Linked DNA regions of Homo sapiens: region 1 is reported to be linked to region 2. The links are microRNA targets in miRTarBase. Many come from high-throughput screens and were not tested one by one. Region 2 holds a microRNA gene; the other region holds the end of a gene's coding sequence.
What was found. Region 2 holds the annotated microRNA hsa-miR-7706 (UGAAGCGCCUGUGCUCUGCCGAGA, at 1,371-1,394, shown strand). A microRNA usually pairs through its seed, bases 2 to 8, with sites in the 3' UTR of a target mRNA and lowers its output. Matches are read on the target gene's strand: a 7mer-m8 pairs with bases 2 to 8, a 7mer-A1 pairs with bases 2 to 7 and ends in A, and an 8mer does both.

Region 1 (3,410 bases), not on the chromosome of region 2:
TCTACTCATGTAAAGTTACAGGTTTCAGGTACTATCTCTACCTGGAAACAGACAGTGTAGACCATCTGTGTGATTAAGGGAAAGAGTTCAGAACCCCAGCAACCCACAGTGGAGAAAACCACCTAAGCCTCCAGTGAGGGCTACTAAATCTTGCTGAAGTTAGCGTCCATAAGAAGGTCATTTTGTCTAAGTTCATCAAGTCTTGTGGTCACAGGATTATATCTTTAGAATGCTGGTGAGCAGCCATGCTAACGAAAGCCCCCTTTGGCTAGGAGTTTAGTACTGGGAGGGGTACTGGGAGAGGATAATATAAAGTGATTATTTCCCTTGTCTTTGCTCATCTGCACCTAAATCATGAGGATCTATGGATATGCACCTCATCAGAAGAGTGCACATAACAGCAGCAAGAGAAAAAGCAGCACAGAAAACACAAGGTCACTATGCTTTCCTACACAACAATCACTTGTCAGGCAACTGTCTGAGATACCTAATTCTCCCCAGAGTGGATGTCTCCTTGTACACGCATATGTGTGACACACACACACACACAGATATAAGTTGGCTCCGTGTCCCCACCCAAATCTCACCTTGACTTGTAATAATTCCCACGTGTCAAGGGCAAGACCAGGTGGAGGTAACTGAATCATGGGGACGGTTTCCCCCGTGCTGTTCTCATGATAATGAGTGAGTCTCATGAGATCTGATGGTTTTATAAGAATCTGGCATTTTCCCTGCTTGTACTTCTCCTTCCTGCCACCTTGTGAATTTGTGAAGATGCCTTGCTTCCCCTTCACCTTCTGCCAGGACTGTAAGTTTCCTGAGGCCTCCCTACCATGCTGAACTGGGAGTCAATTAAATCTCTTTCCTTTGTAAATTGCCCAGTCTCAGGAATTTCTTCATAGCAGTTCAAGAATGAACTAATAAACTACATATATATGAAATAACACTATATAGTATATAGCACTATAAACTATGCTAGGGTACTCAAATTTCTTTCAATATAGATGCAAAATGTCTCAAAAGATGCTACAAAACTGAATTTACCAATATATAAGAAGACTTACACTTCATTACCAAGAGAGATTTAACCCCCCAAAAAAGCAATGTTGTTTTTGCATCTAAAAGTCAATTTGGCTGGGCACAGTGGCTCACATCTGTAATCCCAACACTTTGAGAGGGCAAGGCAGGAGAATCACTTGAGCCCAGGAGTTTGAGACCAGCCTGGGTGACAAAGTTAGACCCAATTTCTTATTTTAGAAAGTCAATTAATGTGATATACCATGTTAACAGAATAAATTTGAAAAACCACAAGATCATTCCAATAGATGCACAAAAACCATGAGAAAAACTTCAACAACACTTGACAATGAAATATTCAATAATAATGAACAGCAGGAAACTTTCTCAACCTGCTTTAAGGAATTTATTTTAAAAACCCTCAGCTAACATCATACATGATGATAAGACTGGATGCTTTCTTTCTCAGATTAGACACAAGACACTGTTCGATCACAGGTCTCTCTCCTTAAACCAATGTTACCTATGCAAATAGCCAAAAATAATGACAATGTAAAGAACAACAGATGAAAATAATAATTCACGTGAGAATATACTCTATAATAAACTTTACATACTTACAAATTGACAGCAACTCTATTAGCAAAGAAAATAGACTCATTTATCAATGGCCAATTAATAACAAAATAATTAAACTACACAGAAGTTAAACCTACAAATACATTTCACACATCTACTGTGTAACCCACAAAATTTTTAAAAAATTTTAAAAATATTTTATACTTTAAATATTTAAAAAATATTTTTTAAAATGGCTATGCAAGAAAAAAGGAAAAGAAATACATTTCAATTTACCCATATAACCAACACACTTTAAAATGGGTAGAAAAAGGAAATTTATTTACCAGCTTAAAAAAGAAGAATACATATTTAACTCTTGTACTACTGCTTGAAGAATACTTACAGAAGTCTTGCCTCAGCTGGGCGTGGTGGCTCACGCCTGTAATCCCAGCACTTTGGGAGGCTGAAGCGGGCGGATCACGAGGTCAGGAGATTGAGACCATCCTGGCTAACACGGTGAAACCCCATCTCTACTAAAAATACAAAAAATTAGCTGGGCATGGTGGCAGGCACCTGTAGTCCCAGCTACTCAGGAGGCTGAGGCAGGAGAATGGCGTGAACCTGGGAGGCAGAGCTTACAGTGAACTGAGATTGTGCCACTGCACACCAGCCTGGGCGACAAAGTGAGACTCCATCTCAAAAAAAAAAAAAAAAGTCTCACCTCAATTTTTTTTTTTTCAAAAGAAGTGAAAATCTATATTCTAGAGACTCTCTTCAAAAATGAGCAACCAATATATTCAATTTATTTATAGCTCCTAAAACATCTCATTCACATAGTGAATTTTCTTGAGAATTGTACTATAATTATTTTCCATAAGGTTTTCCATAATATTTACATTTACAGGATTTATTTCCAGTGGGAGTTTTCACATGACCTTTAAAGTAATTGTTAAAATTCAGAATTTTCTGTATTTCTAGGATTTCAATCTGGTGGGCATTCTTTTATTTATAAGGTCAATCTGGAGTATGTGTTACCATGTGTCTCTGAGTGAGTTATAGGATAAATGAAGGCATTCTCACATTCGATACCTTCATAAAGTTTTTCTCTAGAATGAGTTATGTTATACCATCAAATACCACTGGAACAACTGCAGGCCTTACCACATTTTAAACATTCATATGGATTTTCTTCAGTGAGTCCTTTCAAGTTTTCAAAAAGAAATGGAAAAATTGAATGCTTTACCTTATTGCTTATAGTCATAGGGTTTATCTCCAGTTTGATTCGTTTCATGTATTTGAGGAAATCTGGGAAAATTAAGTACTTTCCTACACCTTACATTCACAGTTTCTCTCAAGTATGTGACTGTTCATGTTTTTGACAAAAACTGTAGTGATTAAAGCCTTTACATTTTTTTACATTTATAGGGCTTTTCTCCAGTATGAGTTTTTTTATGCTTCCAAAGGGTACTAGCACGACTAAAGGCTTTGCCACATTTCTGACATTCATAGGGTTTCTCTCCAGTATGAGTCCTTTCATGGTCACGAAGGGAACTGGAACATCTGAAGCCTTTACCACAATTGTTACATACATAGGGTTTCTGTGCAATATGAGTTTTCTCGTGTTTCTGAAGGGAACTGGCGTATCTGAAGGCTTTCCCACATTGCTTACATGGATAGGGTTCTTCACCAGCATGAGCCTTTATATGTCCTTGCAAGGAACTGAGACAACTGAAAGCTTTGCCACATTCCATGCACACATAAGGTTTCTCTCCAGTGTGAGTTCTTTCATGGTAATGAAGGCAATTGGAGTAACGGAAGGCTTTCCCACAGTG
Region 2 (3,410 bases):
CAACATTAGGAGCATTTCTGAGATTTGGAGCTATTCAACAATGGAAGTTCCTGGCACACACATCAGGTATTCACAATACCCTTTCTCAGGTGTTTGGTCACTGCTAGTGAGCCGCCTGGATCAGTGTTTCCCAAATGGCAGTCATTTGCATCTTTGCTTTTCTTTTGGGGGCGGGGGGGTAATATCCTGTACCAGATTTTTGAAAACTGACATTAAAAATACATGTTTAAAATGTGCAAAGTGCACTAAAGTGCACTGGATGTATTTTTTATTCATGTATATACTTTTGTTATCTATCACCCAGGTCAAAATACAGAACCAGCACCCCAGAGGGTTCCCTCCTCCTCCTTCCCAGCCAATAATCTTCTCCTCCTACCTAACCGCTGTTCTTACTTCAATCACTATCAACTAGTTTTACACGTTCTTCAACTGCATATAAATTGTCTCAGTTTTTTACTTAACACTTTTCTTGAAGTGCTTTCGTTTTTTGCCACTTTTTATTTGACCTAAGAAATAACATTAATGAAACAGTGGTTTGACGTGATAGGCATTTCCCTCCTAATGCGCACTAAAAACACTTAACTATTTGAAAAAAGAAGTTTCTTCGTGTACCAACTAATATATTCTCCGCCCTGTCTCCAGAAACCGCCCTTCCTCTGTGGGCCGGTGGTTACCGGCACCATTGGTACACGGACCACATTTTGTTTCCCAAAGCAACCAGATGATTTTTGAGGTCCTTTGCAGCTCGAACACGGAATGACTTTGTGGTGATCGAGTAGCCAGAAGTTCACGGAATGCACTGTCACAATTGTGATTCCGCCATAGCGCCGTGCATCCATCCAACACTTGTTTAATACCTATATTTAATACCTAATACCTTAGACGGTCCTAGGCTGTGGACACAGAAGACTAAACCCCACTTCCTGAGTTGAAGTGGGGGAAATAGAGGAGTAAATCATTTCACGATGTGTGGTTAAGTGCTGCAGCTCAGGTAACCACCAGTACACAGAGGAAGGGCGGTTTCTGGAGACAGGGCGGAGAGGAGACCGTGGGTGGGCATTTCCCAGAGCAGCCTCTGCCAGCCACCCTACTTTGATCACTTTGCCGCCGAGCAGCAGCGGCGGTCAACCTCAGCCTCCCTTAGCAACCTGAGTGCCCCGTCCAGGAGCCTTACTATTGGTCTCATGCAGCGAGATGGGCAGTTCTGCCGTGCAATCCCAGCTCGCAGTTCTTGCTCCGCGTGTACTCACGGGAGGACTCGCAGGCGTTACCGCCTTCCCGCGTGCCCCGCCCACCCTCCCGAGCGTCTTTCGGCGCATGCGCGGACTGGAGCTGTGTGCAGGGCCAGCGCGGAGCCCGAGCAGCCGCGGTGAAGCGCCTGTGCTCTGCCGAGACTGCCGTGCCCATTGCTCGCCTCGGTCGCCGCCGCTTTAGCCGCCTCCGGGGGAGCGGCCGCCTATTGTCTTTCTCCGCGGCGAAGGTGAAGAGTTGTCCCAGCTCGGCCCGCGGGGGAGCCCCGGGAGCCGCACGGTGAGAGCGCAACTTAGTTGGCGGAGTTGGGGGAAGTTTTGTGATTTGTGGGTCGGGGCGCGGAGCGCGGCCAGTCCCCTGCGGTTGCTCGGTGGGGCGGGCCCCGGAGGAGGGGCGGGGGCTGCGGGGGTTTCGGGGGCGGGCTGGACAGACGGGTCGCCGGGCGGCGCCGGGACCTCAGGTCTGCGGACCCCTCCTCCCTGCGCATCGCCCTTCTCCCGCATTGTCTGCTTGGGGCTCGGCGCGCCTCCCACTCCGCAGCCCAACTTAGAGGCCGTCGCCGCTTTCCGGGTGGGGGGCGCGCCCGGCCGCCGATGCTACCTCAGGCGCTCCGCCCCCAGCGAGGCCCCGAATCCTTGCCCCGGGTCCCCGGGTCGGCGCCGCCGGGGCGGGCTCACTCCTCCCCTGGGGCGGGCGGCCGCGGTGTGGAGTCCCCGCCGTGGAGTCCGCGCCGTGAACAAGTGCTGCGGGCGCGAGGGAGCGGCTCCCCGGGGTCGACGCGGACGGTAAACACGTCGGGCCGCGCCTGCCTGTCGGTGCCTCTCCGCGGCTTCTCGGGGGTGCGGCCCAGCTGACCCGCGCGGGTCGCAGGCGAGCGGCCCAGGAGACCCGTGCGGTCCCCACGCGCTCTGGGACCCGTGCAGCCAGCCGGCTCAGCTTGCAGCTATACTTTGATACCAAACAAAACTTTTTTTTTTTTTTTTGGTAAATACGGTTTACTGCTTTTTTTTTTTTTTTTTTTTTGCAAAGCCACGAAGTATGTGAAGTTGAAAAAAGGAAAAACCCTAAAACTTTTTAAAAAAAAATCAAGAAAGGGGGTAGATAGGTTTGTTTTGTTTTGGAAATAGTTCTTATAGCAGAGTGATACCGTCCCATTTAATTTTCTAGATCCCGGAATTCACAATGAAAATTGGATTGAGCGGTATTTTGGTGTTCATTCTTTGCTAATGACACTCCTTAATGAAGTTATTTGGAGAGTTTATTGCTTCAGTACAGTAAAAACCAGTGTGCCTTTTTTTTTGTTAGTAGTCCCCCCCACAACAAGTGTTTTATTTTTAGAAGAAGCATTTTCTTCAGTTTTTCTGAACTGTTGGATTGCGCAGATGAGGACAAACGGTGCAGTTCTTGAAAGGTCATTATTGGCAAGTTTGTGAAGAAGCTAAGATCAGTTGAGATAAATCATTGTTACTATTCTTGTATTCTGTCGTGGACTCTTGGGGATTTGCAGGCTGCATTAAGTACAAGTTTTGTCAAGTTTGGGTGCACATATTACACTTAATTTGGTTTGTGTGGCTTATTATATGAACATGATTCTGTTTCAGTTCCCCAGATGGAACTAGCTTAAATGTCTGTCATTCATAGTGGAGCAAAATGGCCAGAGTGTCATTTATTGTTAACTTCAGTTGTATTCCTTTACCATCTGCTAAATGAAAAAGAAAAATTTGAGAAATACTGTGTGTGTCAGTTTGCTCAGAGTGATTTCTCGTGCTAAGTGAGTCCTGTGGAGAAGCGTTCCTGGGCTTTTCTGGTTTGGTGGGCCTTGTGTTATAAAACCAATTTTCTTCACCTGATGAAGCTAAAGACAAATTTTCTTCAGGTACAGCCATTGCACTTTTAAATTACAGAGCCGCTTTTAGGATTCACAGTACTCGCTCCATGGCTTCCCTTCCTGGTTGTGTGGTTTTGTGTGTGTGATTGTGGGGAAGGAGGTTGACAGAGGTTGGAAGGGATTGTCAGGGAGGGACATAATGTAAGCAAGTACTACTTACAACATGACGTGACGAGTGCACTAGTTGCTTTCCTTCTCTGGGCGGTGATGGCATGTTATACTGTAGGTACTATTGTTTTAGGATTTCTCACACTTCTTTTGCCTTGACTAA

Region 1: miRTarBase lists ZNF124 as a target of hsa-miR-7706. Seed matches in the 3' UTR shown: 7mer-A1 at 2,043-2,049.

What each region holds. Positions count from the first base shown.
Region 1 is chr1:247,153,585-247,156,994 of GRCh38, forward strand. ZNF124 (zinc finger protein 124) reads right to left here. Exons shown (of 4, transcript NM_001297568.2): 4 at 1,405-3,410. The coding sequence ends at 2,982. Among named protein-coding and RNA genes, the nearest start is that of ZNF124, 17 kb to the right of the region's middle.
Region 2 is chr15:85,379,269-85,382,678 of GRCh38, forward strand. It overlaps MIR7706 (microRNA 7706), which reads left to right and starts at 1,328; the gene lies at 1,328-1,394. It overlaps AKAP13 (A-kinase anchoring protein 13), which reads left to right and starts at 1,335. Exons shown (of 37, transcript NM_007200.5): 1 at 1,335-1,530. RefSeq lists silencers at 1,186-1,265, 1,646-2,215, 1,872-2,039.